2 separate regions of the Homo sapiens genome follow, and region 2 is linked to region 1. The links come from fine-mapping of genetic effects on gene expression. Tissue or cell type: whole blood. Region 1 holds a variant in brackets; the other region holds the start of a gene. All regions are shown on one strand. Distances are from middle to middle.

What was found. PIP is the estimated chance that this variant, and not a neighbour inherited with it, causes the effect.
Region 2: it holds the start of FAM43A, and the variant in region 1 is fine-mapped to the expression of FAM43A in whole blood (INTERVAL, PIP above 0.99).

Annotation. Positions count from the first base shown.
Region 1 is chr3:195,083,476-195,091,579 of GRCh38, reverse strand. The region is part of intron 3 of XXYLT1 (xyloside xylosyltransferase 1); the gene reads left to right. Among named protein-coding and RNA genes, the nearest start is that of XXYLT1-AS1, 7.1 kb to the left of the region's middle. The variant CG/G (reference allele first, on the strand shown) is at 3,425.
Region 2 is chr3:194,682,144-194,690,247 of GRCh38, reverse strand. FAM43A (family with sequence similarity 43 member A) reads right to left here and starts at 4,365. Exons shown (of 1, transcript NM_153690.5): 1 at 1,211-4,365. The coding sequence starts at 3,421. The coding sequence ends at 2,150. It overlaps LOC124909474, which reads left to right and starts at 3,339. Exons shown (of 3, transcript XM_047449428.1): 1 at 3,339-4,388; 2 at 4,830-4,910. The coding sequence starts at 3,995. RefSeq lists enhancers at 549-668, 2,515-3,018, 3,019-3,524, 4,276-4,635, 7,321-7,370 and silencers at 2,216-2,515, 3,346-3,535.

The sequences.
Region 1 (8,104 bases):
ATTCAGTATGATATTGGCTGTGGGTTTGTCATAGATAGCTCTTATTATTTTGAAATACATCCCATCAATACCTAATTTATTGAGAGTTTTTAGCATGAAGGGTTGTTGAATTTTGTCAAAGGCTTTTTCTGCATCTATTGAGATAATCATGTGGTTTTTGTCTTTGGCTCTGTTTACCTGCTGGATTACATTTATTGATTTGCGTATATTGAACCAGCCTTGCATCCCAGGGATGAAGCCCACTTGATCATGGTGAATAAGCTTTTTGATGTGCTGCTGGATTCGTTTTGCCAGTATTTTATTGAGGATTTTTGCATCAATGTTCATCAAGGATATTGGTCTAAAATTCTCTTTTTTTGTTGTGTCTCTGCCTGGCTTTGGTATCAGAATGATGCTGGCCTCATAAAATGAGTTAGGGAGGATTCCCTCTTTTTCTATTGATTGAAATAGTTTCAGAAGGAATGGTACCAGTTCCTCCTTGTACCTCTGGTAGAATTCGGCTGTGAATCCATCTGGTGCTGGACTCTTTTTGATTGGTAAGCTATTGATTATTGCCACAATTTCAGCTCCTGTTATTGGTCTATTCAGAGATTCAACTTCTTCCTGGTTTAGTCTTGGGAGAGTGTATACGTCGAGGAATTTATCCATTTCTTCTAGGTTTTCTAGTTTATTTGTGTAGAGGTGTTTGTAGTATTCTCTGATGGTAGTTTGTATTTCTGTGAGATCGGTGGTGATATCCCCTTTATCATTTTTTATTGCGTCTATTTGATTCTTCTCTCTTTTTTTCTTTATTAGTCTTGCTAGTGGTCTATCAATTTTGTTGATCCTTTCAAAAAACCAGCTCCTGGATTCATTAATTTTTTGAAGGGTTTTTTGTGTCTCTATTTCCTTCAGTTCTGCTCTGATTTTAGTTATTTCTTGCCTTCTGCTAGCTTTTGAATGTGTTTGCTCTTGCTTTTCTAGTTCTTTTAATTGTGATGTTAGGGTGTCAATTTTGGATCTTTCCTGCTTTCTCTTGTGGCATTTAGTGCTATAAATGTCCCTCTACACACTGCTTTGAATGCGTCCCAGAGATTCTGGTATGTTGTGTCTTTGTTCTTGTTGGTTTCAAAGAACATCTTTATTTCTGCCTTCATTTCGTTATGTACCCAGTAGTCATTCAGGAGCAGGTTGTTCAGTTTCCGTGTAGTTGAGTGGTTTTGAGTGAGATTCTTAATCCTGAGTTCTAGTTTGATTGCACTGTGGTCTGAGAGATAGTTTGTTATAATTTCTGTTCTTTTACATTTGCTGAGGAGAGCTTTACTTCCAAGTATGTGGTCAATTTTGGAGTAGGTGTGGTGTGGTGCTGAAAAAAATGTATATTCTGTTGATTTGGGGTGGAGAGTTCTGTAGATGTCTATTAGGTCCGCTTGGTGCAGAGCTGAGTTCAATTCCTGGGTATCCTTGTTGACTTTCTGTCTCCTTGATCTGTCTAATGTTGACAGTGGGGTGTTAAAGTCTCCCATTATTAATGTGTGGGAGTCTAAGTCTCTTTGTAGGTCACTCAGGACTTGCTTTATGAATCTTGGTGCTCCTGTATTGGGTGCATATATATTTAGGATAGTTAGCTCTTCTTGTTGAATTGATCCCTTTACCATTATGTAATGGCCTTCTTTGTCTCTTTTTATCTTTGTTGCTTTAAAGTCTGTTTCATCAGAGACTAGGATTGCAACCCCTGCCTTTTTTTGTTTTCCATTGGCTTGGTAGATCTTCCTCCATCCTTTTATTTTGAGCCTATGTGTGTCTCTGCATGTGAGATGGGTTTCCTGAATACAGCACACTGATGGGTCTTGACTCTTTATCCAATTTGCCAGTCTGTGTCTTTTAATTGGAGCATTTAGTCCATTTACATTTAAAGTTAATATTGTTATGTGTGAATTTGATCCTGTCATTATGATGCTAGCTGGTTATTGTGCTCGTTAGTTGATGCAGTTTCTTCCTAGTCTCGATGGTCTTTACATTTTGGCATGATTTTGCAGCGGCTGGTACCGGTTGTTCCCTTCCATGTTTAGCGCTTCCTTCAGGAGCTCTTTTAGGGCAGGCCTGGTGGTGACAAAATCTCTCAGCATTTGTTTGTCTGTAAAGTATTTTATTTCTCCTTCACTTATGAAGCTTAGTTTGGCTGGATATGAAATTCTGCGTTGAAAATCCTTTTCTTTAAGAATGTTGAATATTGGCCCCCACTCTCTTCTGGCTTGTAGGGTTTCTGCCGAGAGATCCACTGTTAGTCTGATGGGCTTCCCTTTGTGGGTAACCCGACCTTTCTCTCTGGCTGCCCTTAACATTTTTTCCTTCATTTCAACTTTGGTAAATCTGACAATTATGTGTCTTGGAGTTGCTCTTCTCGAGGAGTATCTTTGTGGCGTTCTCTGTATTTCCTGAATCTGAACGTTGGCCTGCCTTGCTAGATTGGGGAAGTTCTCCTGGATAATATCCTGCAGAGTGTTTTCCAACTTGGTTCCATTCTCCCCATCACTTTCAGGTACACCAATCAGACGTAGATTTGGTCTTTTCACATAGTCCCATATTTCCTGGAGGCTTTGCTCATTTCTTTTTATTGTTTTTTCTCTAAACTTCCCTTCTTGCTTCATTTCATTCATTTCATCTTCCATTGCTGATACCCTTTCTTCCAGTTGATTGCATCGGCTCCTGAGGCTTCTGCATTCTTCACGTAGTTCTCGAGCCTTGGTTTTCAGCTCCATCAGCTCCTTTAAGCACTTCTCTGTATTGGTTATTCTAGTTATATATTCTTCTAAATTTTTTTCAAAGTTTTCAACTTCTTTGCCTTTGGTTTGAATGTCCTCCCGTAGCTCAGAGTAATTTGATCGTCTGAAGCCTTCTTCTCTCAGCTCGTCAAAGTCATTCTCCATCCAGCTTTGTTCTGTTGCTGGTGAGGAACTGCGTTCCTTTGGAGGAGGAGAGGTGCTCTGCTTTTTAGAGTTTCCAGTTTTTCTGTTCTGTTTTTTCCCCATCTTTGTGGTTTTATCTACTTTTGGTCTTTGATGATGGTGATGTACAGATGGGTTTTTGGTGTGGATGTCCTTTCTGTTTGTTAGTTTTCCTTCTAACAGACAGGACCCTCAGCTGCAGGTCTGTTGGAGTACCCGGCCCTGTGAGGTGCCCCGCTGGGGGGTGCCTCCCAGTTAGGCTGCTCGGGGGTCAGGGGTCAGGGACCCACTTGAGGAGGCAGTCTGCCCGTTCTCAGATCTCCAGCTGCGTGCTGGGAGAACCACTGCTCTCTTCAAAGCTGTCAGACAGGGACCTTTAAGTCTGCAGAGGTTACTGCTGTCTTTTTGTTTGTCTGTGCCCTGCCCCCAGAGGTGGAGCCTACAGAGGCAGGCAGGCCTCCTTGAGCTGTGGTGGGCTCCACCCAGTTCGAGCTTCC[CG/G]GCTGCTTTGTTTACCTAATCAAGCCTGGGCAATGGCGGGCGCCCCTCCCCCAGCCTCGCTGCCACCTTGCAGTTTGATCTCAGACCGCTGTGCTGGCAATCAGCGAGACTCCGTGGGGTAGGACCCTCCGAGCCAGGTGCGGGATGTAATCTCGTGGTGCGCCGTTTTTTAAGCCCGTTGGAAAAGCGCAGTATTCAGGTGGGAGTGACCCGATTTTCCAGGTGCGTCTGTCACCCCTTTCTTTGACTCCCTTTGAAAGGGAACTCCCTGACCCCTTGCGCTTCCCAAGTGAGGCTTTGCCTCGCCCTGCTTCGGCTCGCGCACGGTGCGCGCACCCACTGACCTGCGCCCACTGTCTGGCACTCCCTAGTGAGATGAACCCGGTACCTCAGATGGAAATGCAGAAATCACCGTCTTCTGCGTCGCTCACGCTGGGAGCTGTACACCAGAGCTGTTCCTATTCGGCCATCTTGGCTCCTCCAGTAGCATCTAATTTTAATGCCCGCTTTGATCTGGCTGTTAAAAATTCCACTCTTTATGTTCATTCAAATTCCAGTTGGCTGTTCTGGGTAAGCCCAGGCCCCAGTGCCCTATCCGGAGAGAGCTGAGAAGTTGCAGGCCCTGCGTGCAGGGAGCCTGACTGCCTTGTCTCTGTGCTCTACCAGCTCCAGGCATACCTGTGTTGATACCTGAATAGAGCGCGCAGTGGGGAGAGACAGGGAGGGTAGCTCAGATGCTTTTCTGCTTTCACAGGGAGCACCCCAAGCACAGCAGATTTTCAAGAGATTTATCTGGAAGGCCTGGAGAAGCAACTCAAGCACAAGGGATCTGAGGAGGAGCCAGGGAGCACATTTCCAGTTTAAAGGGGAAAAATGTCTCCCTGGAGAGTGGGTACAAACGGGAAGAGGGCGGAAGAGGAGCTCCAGGGCCACACGCAGCCTGGCAAGGGCAAGGCCGGCTGTGTCCAGAGGAGCAGGAAAGGCGGGTTTGCTGCAGGCCACCTGGAGAGACGGTGGCGTGTCAACGGGCCACACGGGCAGTGCCTCCCAGCCCCCTTACTGCTCCCCGCAGCCTGCCCTGAGTTTAGAGAAGCTGCACCGAGGCAGGAGGAGGTGACCACAGTGCTGCCACCAAGGCGACCTGGAGCTGGGAAGGCCTAGGAGGCCACTCTCCCTCCTTGTGGTACAGGTGGGAGGTATCGGGGAGGGGCCTGGCCAGTGTCATCATGCAAGTCACTGATCATGATTAGAACAGCCACTGCCACTGACCCCATAGCCAGAATGCTCAAGACAGAAGCCAGGACCCGGAGCTCTTTGTCCCCCTTCATCACCTACATGCATCCGTTCTTAGAGCTAGTCATACACCTGCTAAGTATCTCCTAAACCCTTTGCTTGTCTCCATCCTTGGCACTGCCACCCTCCCCCCCATCACCAAAGCATCCTCCTGCCTGGTCTTGCTGCTTCCAGCCCTTCCTCCTCCATGCCAGTGCCCACCCAGCCAGAGTGACCTTCCTCATACCTCGCTTCAAACCTTTTGTTCCCTTTAGCAGCAAGGTCAGCTTCCCTGACCTTCCTCACAGGGCCCATCCTAAACTGGCCCTGGCTCATAGTCAGGCCTCTGACCCCACAGCCCCTGCCCCTAACCACTGTGTTTGTTGAATACAACTGGATAGACTTCTCCCCTACAGGTCTGTGGTCTCTGCTGAAATGCATTCACATGCATGGAGACAGGGAAACAGCCTCTGTTCCAGGGAAGCAGGGGTAGGGGAGCGGCCGAGACGCCAGACCTGGCTACCTTTGATAAGTTGTTTATTTTCTGAAGCAGACAGTTCTGATAAAGCCGTCGTAATGATGCTCCTTGATCCAACCTAGCACGATAGGAATCTGAGCTGGCCTGTCAGAAGGACAGATTGTTTTGTGGATTTTCTTCCCTTAAAAAAAAAGAAAAATTTAAAAGCAAGGACAGTGCTGTAGAGTGCTGAGCTGTAAGGCTTCGAGGCACACAGCGCGGCCAGCTGTGGGGCAGGCTGGGGGCAAGCTGGGTGTTTGGGGGTGCTGGAAACCAGGTCTGTTTTGCCCAGGTGTGCTCTGTGTGTACAAATGGCCTTTAATGCAGCTGCCCCTGTCCACAGGCCCCAGGCAGTCCTTGAAAGAGAAGCTTGAAAAGTCAAGTTTGGGTCTTCTGCAGCTCGGGCACCACCGAGTCATAGTGAGTGTTGGCCTCCGCAAGGCCTGACAGCACAGAGGACAGAGGTGAGTGGGGGCAGCTGCCTCAGGGGCTAGCCTCGGGGTGGGGGAGGAGGCTAGCCCAGCAAGCTTTTGAGGCACCTCTTTCCTGTGTTGGGTATGAGGTGAGTGCTCAGAGCAGTGGCTCTGTCACCACAGTCGAAGGACAGTGAGGCTAGTGGCGACCTGACGGTTTTGAACCAAACTCTGGGCCAGCCCCTGGTGGAATGGAGTGGTCTCGCCGCATCAGTCTGGAACTCTACTAGGATTGTCACCAGACACGGTTGTGGCTCGCGGCTGCCCACCGCGGCCCGCAGGATGACTGGGCTCTTGGAGCTGTGAGGGAGCACAGGAGCTAAGCTCCTGCTCCTTTCTCTCTGACCGCACTGCTGTGCTTCTCGAGTAGAACTGGGTGGACTCCCCCCTCCCACCGCGGTCTCTGGTGAAATGCGCTGGCATGCTTAGACATGGGGATGGAGGCTCCATTCTAGGGAACCAGGGATGGGAGAGTGGCAGAGATGCCAGACCTGGACACCTTGGGTGAGTTGCGTATTTTCTGAACCAGCTTGGAGCCGGAGCGGCAGGGCCAGGGGTGGGGACCAGGACTGTGACACTGGTACTGAGTCACCATTCCCAAGAGGTTTGGAGAGGTCGGAAGGGGTGTTGAGCCAAAGGGCAAATCCAGATATTCTCTCTCCAAAGCCCGTGCTCCTCTGAACTGTTCTCCAGGGACCTCACTCAGCCCCTTTTGTCCCCAACTTGAACTTTCATATGGCAATCATTTCTTTTCCTACTTGACCTCGTGCAAGGAGAGGATTTAGAGCACTGTAACTCCCATGGGGGTCATCCTTGCTTGGGAGAAGGTTACGTCCACGTGAAGACTCTGCGGCTGCTCAGATGAACCACACACTCTGGAGGTTTTTGGCATTTCGAGGGTCTGGAAGTGGCTGCCTTGCTAGGCCTCCCTTTCCTACCCTCAGCTTCTGCAACTGGCAGGAGCTGCTGTCTTGGGCACCATTAGAGAAGCTCCCCTGCCAAGAGCCAAGGTGTACTGTCCCCAGCATGGAGAATGGTCCTGCCATCAGAGTGGGCTCTCCAGGATGAGGGTGTCTGTGTGATTCACTGTGCTCTTCACATCCTGGACCCTGAAGCCTAATTGAATGAATGAATCCCTGGGGTTGGGTTTCTGGGGCCGATGGAGTCCTGTGATCGTGTGTAGTGGTGGGAGTTTTGCCTAGAACATCCTTGGGTGGTTTAACTCACTAAAATACAGCAAGTGAAGAACAGCAGGCTGCAAGGGCTGACCTAAGTATTTTAGGGAAAGAATTGGACCTCTGAAAAGAGTACGGTTTACTTTGCTCAAAATCTGGGTTGCATGAAATACATTACACTGAGGCTGCCATCTCGCTGGTGGGAAAGGCTGCAGGCAGTCTTGTGGTGCCCTAGCGAGGGTGGACTTTATGTCCTAGCTGGGCAGCCTTGCCCAGGTGGCTTCCATGCTCCATTTTCCTGGGTGATCTCTATAGGTTTTTTTCAGCGAGAAGATTTTGGGTCTAGGGCCAGGGCCCTGACTTGAATCGGGCCTCCTGCCTCTAAGTATCCCTGGGGCAGGGAGCAGCCTAGCTGATCCCTGCCATCTTCCCATCCTCACCCACAGCCTGCTCTGTGGTTGGAACTGGCCTGATGCAATTCAGACCTCATAGCCTGTTTTCTGCTTTTCTGCTTTTCTGCCTTACCAGCCGGACCTTCCCAGAGAACCAAAGCCCGCTAGGAATCCTTTCTGTGATGTTATTTCTCACTCCAGCTCTGAACTTGGTGAAAGCACAGGAGATGAGCTCTTTCTGAGTTAATGCAGCAAAAGGCAGAATGTGTGACCATCAGCACATCACTTTTTTTTTTTTGAGACCGATTTTCACTCACTGTCACCCAGGCTGGAGTGCCGTGGTGCAATCTCGGCTCGCTGCAACCTCTGCCTCCTGGGTTCAAACCATGCTCCTGCCTCAGCACCTTGAGGAGCTGGGACTACGGGTGCCTGCCACCGCGCCTGGATGATTTTTGTATTTTTAGTAGAGATGGAGTTTTGCTGTGTTGGCCGGGCTGGTCTCAAACTCCTGACTGCAAGTGATCTGCTTTCCTCGGCCTCCCAAAGTGCTGGGATTAGCGGCATGAGCCACTGTGCACCGCCAGGCGCAGTAACTCTCTGGGCCTCCATTTCCTCGTCCGTAAAATGGAAATAATACTGACCGTAGGTAGTTGTGAGGAATTGAGATAATGTACATATAGCTGGGTAATGATTCCTGTGAATGGGGAGAGGTGTTCTTCTCCTCCTCCTCGTCATTTTTCTGGGCATGGTGCTTGTCCATAATAGGCTTGAACAAATATTTATTGCCAGCCTGGATGTAGGGATGACCCTGACTTCTGAGGAGGAGATGAGGAGAAGGACCTCTGGTGTC
Region 2 (8,104 bases), 400 kb after region 1:
GGAGGTGGAGGTTGCGGTGAGCTGAGATTGCACCATTGCACTCCAGCCTGGGTGACAAGAGTGAAACTCCGTCTCAAAAAAAAAAAAAAAATATATATATATATACACACACACACACACACACACACACACACACATATTTTCCACTCGCCCCCTTTGCTTTTCTTTTTTAAAGATAGTTCTATGCCTGAACCATTCCTGTTAATTAGGAAGAAAATCTTTCACCCCTCTTTCCTCTATGGTTCCAGTGAATTCCAGACTCCTTAGGATTTCTGGGTCTAGCTGCTCAGAACATATTTATGATGAAAACAAAGCAAAGTGGCCTCAGGACACCAGGGAAGGCCAGGAGTGAGATCCATTTCTGCAACACAGGAAGAGAGGCCTCAAGGGGCAAAAGGAAAATATAATTTGCAGAAGGCACAGTTTTGGCAGCATCTTATTACAACTTCCAGCTGATCGGGTGTAGCCAAACTAGAGACATCTGTTTGGAGTTTACAACAGAAACAAACACACAGAAAGCATGAAAGCGCTGAAACATGCACACCCATACCGCGCTCTAACAGCTCCTCTCCCCCTCGACCTTCGCGCCATCCCCCAACTGGGTCACACTGGGTTGTAGAAGGGAAGGAAATGGGCTCTGCAGCCTGCCCAGCCACCCACCCACCTGCACCGTGACTCACTCACACCAGGATCGGAACTTGTCAACTTTTCTCTCCTTGGTTTTCCTCCCAGGAAAAACAGAGATGGCCCCACTCCTCAGAGAACTCCTCTTTGGGTTTCTAGTTCATCTTTAAAGCTCCCTGAGCTGTTTGTAAAGGAAAAGATAAGGTAGTCTCCTTACGCTTGATTATTAGCATGGCCCACAGAAGGAGGTAGTAAAATCTCAGCAGATCTGGAAGTCACTCCTCCATAAATAACCTCACAGGTCTGGGAGTGCGATATGGAACTCACCGTGGCCTCTCCAAAAGACCAGAAAAAGATCACACAACTTAATTACTGAAAAATACAGGATAATACAAGAAAAGGCTGGTCCCAGACACAGCACCCAGAGTTGTGGAGGTCCAGGAAGGCCCCAGATGGCGCATAAAGTGGACCTTCCTTCCCTAATTCTCTCCAAGCACAGGAAAGGCCAAAGACTGTCTTATGACACCATCCCAGGGTCAGACACAGCCTCTCCCACCCCAACGCAGCAGTTCCAGACGCTCACCTGTTCTGTTAAATTTTCCTCTTTATTCTCTCCCCACTGGCGTGCAAACAGAACCAGAACAGTGCTACTTTTAAAAAATAACAAAATGTTTTATACACATTTCTGTATATACAACTGAACAACATTTTACATGTTTCTTTTGCACAGCAAAAGATATAAACATTCAGCTCTGAGAACACAGTTATGTACAGAAAAAAGTCAAAAATACTTCACAACAGTGCAAAAATATTTTACACAGTATCATGGAGTGAGATCTTTTGAGCAAGAGGAAGGGTGTGTGTGTTTCTAAAGGAAAACTCCTTTTTAAGATATTGGATGTCTTTAACTGTAAACAAAACGCGACTCTCTTTCATCTCCCCCCACCCCCCAAACAGTTATTTGAAGAATTTGGCAACATTTCAGGGGTCTGAGTCTGAGGTAAACAGCCAGAATTCTTGCACCAAAAAGAACCAAGGGCTAAAGGGTTGCATTAAAGCCTCAAACACCTTGAGAGCAAATTTTTTTTTTTTTTTAATGAGATGTCAGTGACAGCGCAGGGCCGCTCCCAGGGGGTGGGAGGAGGAAGTGAACCCCTCCTCCTCAGGCCCCAGCTGCCCCACAAACAGGAAACTGGCCAGGCACCTACGGCCTGAGACTAGGAACTTCAGCCAACCTTCCCTCACCCGCATCCCAGAGGGGTGCCTCTCTCTCCCTCCTGGCGGGGTTTTCCCCTCTCAAATCTCCCCGCATCCCCACGCGCAACAGAGCCAAAAGTGCTGGGGCGGGAGCGGGGGCCGGGAGGTAGGGGAAAGCGGTCGGGGGAACGCTGGACCTGGGCTCCAAGTGTAGGTCTGGGCCCCAAATGCCCCATTTCCCCCTTCCTGGGGGCGGGCAAGGGACAGGGAGGTTGTCGGGACCACGGATGGGTAGCCACGGTGGAGCGCCGGCGACGCGCGGAGGAGCTCAGCCCGAGTGGGGCTCGTCTGCACTGGCGCCGTCGGCCTGGCGGGACGAGTCCCCGGCGGTGGCGGAGGTGGCGTCAGGGCCCCCGCCCTCGATGGAGCTCTCGCTGCCCGTGCTGTCGCCTGACAGCAGGCGCGTCACCCGCAAGTCGGCCTGCAGGGTGCGCACGTCGTTGCCGAAGCTGAGCTCGCCCAGGTCGCTAATAAGTTGCGACAGCTCAGCCTTCATGTCGGAGGCGCTGCCCAGCAGCAGAGGCGGCGGCCCGGCCCCCGGGCCCAGGGAGCCCCCGCCGCCTCCTAGCGCCTCCCCACGGCCATTCTCCAGAGTATCCAACAAGTCCCCGCACTCAAAGTGCATGGCGACCACTAGCGCACGCTGCGCCTCGGCCTCCTCCTCTGCTGGATCTCCCTCTGCCGCACGGTTCTCCTCCTCCTCCGGGCAGCCCTCGGGTTGCTCCTCTTCCTCTTCCTCCTGCAGCTCCTGCTCCAGCTGTTCGCCGAGCAGGTCCTCGGTGATGGAGCCAAGCTTGGGCGCGCTGCGGCTGCGCTCCACCGGCGGTTTATAGCAGCAGGGTCCGTGTAGGAGCAGCTTGCGCAGCGGCACTAGCGGGATGGTGTGTGCGCCCACCAGCTCCTGCTGCTGGTGACGCGCGTCGTCCCGCCGCTTGAGGCGTTTAAATTCCGCCAGCGCGTTGGCCGACGTCTGGTAGAGCAGCAGGGCCATGGCCTGCGCCTTTTCGGGCTTGGACACCAGCACGGCGTGGCAGCGCAGCATCACGGCCTTGTGCTTCAGCTCGTGCCGGTACACCCAGGCGAAGACCTTGGGCAGCCGCGCGTCGGCCACGCAGTAGGTGACGCGGTGCAGCAGGTAGAGGTGGCCCGGGCGGCGCAGCGCGCGCTCCTCGGCGTGCACCATGCGGATACCCTGCGCACTCACCGTCAGCTTCATCTTGGTGCCCTGACGGCCCGCCTCGCTCTTGCTCCAGATCTTGCCCACAGCAAGGTCGGTGCAGCCGTCGCCGCGCGCCTGGATGGTGGTGGCATTGCCCAGGTAGAGCACGGTGTAAGTTGGGTCCTCGCTAGTGATGTGCAGCTTCTTGCGCTTGGAGCGGAACATGCTGCCCACCCGGCTAAGCGCGCCTTCGGGGCACGCCCGCGCCAGCGAGCTGAGCGCCGAGTAGTGCAGGCTCACAGCGTAGCCCTTGGGCTTGGACGCCTGCCGCGGCGGCGCCTCGGCCAGCAGCTCGAACTTGTGCTTCTTCCACGGCAGCATCTCCGGAGGGCGCCCCGGCGCAGCTGGGCGGCGGCGGCGGCGGAGCGCCGGGTGCGAGGCCCGCTGAGCCACCGGCCCCTGCCAGGCTCGGCCCGGGCAAGATCGAAGAATAAAACTACTGGGAGCGGCCCTGTGGTAGGGAGTTGGGGGGAGGGGAGCAGAGAGAGTGCTTAGGAACCCCGCAGGAGGTGCGGGTAAATTCTCTAAAAAAGAAAATATTCAGCTTCGAGTGTGCAAAAAAGGTTGGTGCGGGGGAGACACGCGCGCACACAGAATTACCCCAGCCTGGGCAAGGGCGAGAGCAAAGAGTCTCAGGCAAGCAACAAAATGCAAGGGAGAAAGAACGAGCGTAGAGTGGAAAATGTCAGGAAAAAAGCTAGAAGCGCGCGTGCAAATAAAGAGAGCCCCAGCAACAGCACCCGGGATGGTGCAAGAATATGCAGGAACTCCTCGGCGAACGTGAGGTGGGTCCCCTAACACACACAACCCTCAGGACTGGGGCCAAAACCCGCGGAAACTCTACAGCGAGTGTGCCTAGGGGCCGGTGCTCCCCACCTCCGAGGGGTGCTGGAGATGGAAAGCCCCCCGTTTGGGCTGGTCTCAAGTCAGCAGCTCGCCCAAAGTGCGGTCGGATGCTGGGTCCGGCTGGCCGCGGCGGGCCCCGCGCAGCAGTCCCGCGGGGACTCACTGCATCTTCGCTCCGCCGGACGCCGGGGACTCGCGCTCGGCCCGCTCAGTGTCCGGGCTGGCCTGGCCGAGACGGCGCTGGGCTCCGAGAACAGGGGACGGGCATGGCCGGGTCCGGGAACCGCCGCTACCTCATTTCTTCCCTCCGAGGCGGTGTCCAGCTCCGCTCCCGGGCTCTCCACGGTCTGCTGCCCGCCTTTGCAGTGCGCCCTCTCCGGTGCTGCGAGCGGCGTCCGGCTCGCCTGCCTCACATCCTTGCCGTCCGGGAGGAAGATCTCGGGTAAATATAGGCCGGCGCGAACCATTCGCCGCGCGGGGACAGGGGAGGAGCAGAGAAGAGGATCTGTTTTGGGCTCCGACTCCGGGCGGATTCCTGGTTTCTTAAAGGGACCGCGTGACAGCCATTGGTCGAGGGAGCGGGGAGACCGGTCCAATCCTCCAATTACATCCCAAATTTACCAGCATCTCTTTTGTCTATGGAAATCACTGGGACCTGGGGTTACCCCGCAGCAAAAAGATTTGAATCCTGACACTCCACCCCCCAGGCTGAATTGCCACTCACTGAATACATGTATGTCTAGATCGAAACTTCTGAGGGAGGTGGCAGAAGATGAGATTACAGATTATAATTTCCTGTACAAAAAGTTTGGGAAAATAGTGGTTTCTTCCTTGTGTGACGGCTTTCTGAGAATGACTGGGTGCTGTTTAATATTATTTTCAGAATTGTATTCCATTAAAGAAAAGAGAGAGGCACAGAAAACACCAAGGCTTATCTCTCACTATCTTGAGCTCGTATTCACAGGTAAGCAGCAGACAGTGTAAAGTGAGGTGAGTGGTAACATGATTGGGGTGACTACTGTAGAATACCGTCAATGAATAAGGCTTTTCCCCGTCCGAACCCCGGCAAGACCCCCTCCTGCTGTCAGGCCTCAGGGTAGAGCAGTTTTCTGAGATACACACAATTTCTAATGCTCGTGTGTCGTTAGGACTTAGTTTACTTTGGCAAGCCGGTCATGCGGTTTCATTCTATCATTGACATATTTTGGATGAGAATTCCTAGTAAAAATTCAAATGACGTTTTTTATTTAAGTGACAAATAATGCCAGGCCACCCTCCAATGGGAGTGATAATTGCATCAGTATTGCTTTTATCATGTGCCAACTGGACAGTGTAGTTGTCTTCTGACCGGCTTGACCCTTAGCCAGTAACTCATTTCTGGGCCCTTGAAACAGCCTGCTTGCCTCTATGGTATGGTCAGTCAAAGCAAAAAGACGTATGGCTGGAGTGGGATCAATGTCCGAATGATCCTGCATCAAACTCCCAGCCTGGTCCTGGAGGAGGACAGTGATCCCTTCCCACCATCCCAGTCCCCTGGGGATCTTTGATGTCTCTGGCTTCCACGCCAGGTCTTCATGCCAGAGTCACTGCAACCATACCTGGAAATTCCCTTGGGATATTCCAACAAAATAAAACTGACCCCTGCCCACCCTCTACCTTTGCCAACTTTTAACCTTCCTTTGAAATCTAACTCAATTTTCTCAGAGTCGTTGATGCTGAGTTTCCATTTAAGTTACTTTGCTGAGTTTCCATTTAAGTTACTTTTCTGACTACCTTTTGGTGCCCGGCCCTGAGCTAGGAGCAGACGGGATTCCTGCCTCCTAGTCCAATGAAGGTTGTAAACTCTACCCAACTCTGGGTTTCCACTGGACTGTGGGTTCTCTGCAAGTACCCTGTATCCCCAATATGGTACAAATAGGCACTCAGTAACTAGAATTAATGAGCAAGATATGCATGTGGACAAGAAGACAGAGTGGGCTAAATGCTATGAGAAAGACTCAAAGCACTATGAGAAGCTGGAGGAAGAAAGCATTCATTGTGACTAGGAAAATCAGAAAAGGCTTCATGGAGGTGGTGACCTTTGAAAGATAAACAGAATTTATCCAAATAGGAAAAGACTGAAGGGCTTTATGGGTATAGAGGGTAGCAAAATTACAGAAGCATGAAAATGCATGCATAAGGCCAGGCGCGGTGGCTCACGCCTGTAATCCCAGCATTTTGGGAGGCTGAGGCGGGTGGATCACTTGAGGTCAGGAGTTCAAGACCAGCCTGGCCAACATGGCAAAACTCTATCTCTACTAAAAATACAAAAATTAGCTGGGCATGGTGGTGCACGCCTGTAATTCCAGCTACTTGGGAAGTTGAGGCAGGAGAATCCCTTGAACCCGGGAGGCGGAGGTTGCAGTAAGCCGAGATCGCGCCACTGCACTCCAGCCTGGATGACACAGTGAGACCGTCTCAAAAAAAAAGAAAGAAAGAAAGAAAGAAAATGCATACACATGTAGTAATTAAGATGGAGCTTGTAACAATCAAAGAATAAACCTTCCTGATTGTGTTTTTTGGCTCTCTTACACTCCAAGGGAAGGAATGGCCTCTTCATGGCTAACTGGCCCCACAGGGTCCTTCAACCAGAGCTATAATGCCTTACTCCTCAGCTGCACTGATGGGTTAATGGAGGGATACCAGACATGCTGTTGGAATGAGGTAGTTAGTACTATAATAAGCCATTTAAGGCAACATTAATTCCTTAAATTTCTAGGCTATCTTGTAGTGGCAATGAAGGAGATAGCACACGCTCTAAAGAACAAAAACTCTGGTAAAAACATATCAAATGAGGCTGTGTTCAGTGACCTTTAGTAGGTCCATAATCTTGAACTCCACAAAAGCAGACATCATGTTTAAGCAGTGATCATTTCCAAATCGCTCAAAGTTCCAAGGCTCAAGAGGGTTTGGGGAAGAGGAAGAGGGAGTAGTAGCAGGAGCTAAGGCTGGTCTCAGCCTCAGCGAGAGGCACCACTTTGCACTTCATGCAGTGGCATGGACCCCAGTGGCCCACAGAGGCAGGGAGGAGTCTACTGGTGGGCCGGGCTGTTCAGCAGCAGCCGGAGTGCCAGTCCCAGCGGCACAGGCCCACAGAGCTGCTCCTGTTGACGAGGCTATGTCACGCCTTGACCGCCTTCCTAATAAGCTTGTTTCCAACCTTGGGAGAACAGAAAGGTTCTAGGCCAGTGTGAACACCCTGGTGTGAGTCATGCCCTGGAGGAGAACCCGCGGTCCCCTTGTGGCCTGGACCTGTGCCAGCCTCTAGGGCCCGCCTCACCTTATGGAGAAGCTGACCACCCCACCTGAAGCACACATCACAATTAAGGCTGCGTTTCTTCAGCTGGGAGAGCTGGCAGCACCATGTGGGAGTCCACATCACAGATCTGAGACAGGGCAACTCCAGAACAGACTGTCAGCAAAGTGGAGCTGGGAAACAGGTTAGAAACTGCAGTGTACTTTTTTAATGACACTGCCCCCATCTACTGGTAGCAGGCAGAAATGCTGCTCGGTGGATGGTTTCTCGTCAAACCAGATAAGCTAGTGGTTGAAACTACACACAACCGGGTCGCAGTTGGAAGGAAATGCTGCCATCAGGAGTCCCAGCCCTAAACTTGACATCCAGGAGTAAGCCTTTCATCTCACAGAGGATTTGGACCAGCTTCCTCCCACCTTACGTCTTACATAATGCTCCTTCCTCTCGCCCCTCCTCCAACATCCTACTCAGTGGACATTGACTTCAGAGATGACACATGACGAATCTGGAATCTTCAATGTCATCTAGTAAATACTTGTGGAGAGTCTCCCATGAATGTCACATAGTTGCTGGGGATATAGCACTAAAGAGGACAGATAGAGAGGTCTTTGCCTGCATGGGATTTATAGCCTCTGGTGGAGGCAGGAGGGCAGACAGTAAACAAAAAACTAATGAAATAGCAGATAGTGAAAAGTCTCTGGAGAAAAGGAGGCAGTGCTAGGAGTGAGAGGTGGCTGGTTTAGACAGCATGGCCAGGGAAGGTGGCTCTGGGCAGAGACAGGAATGAGATGAACCTGCAAAGAGATGGGGGAGAGCATTGCAGCCTGTGCGGCCCAGTACGCAGTCACCAGCCACAGGCTGCT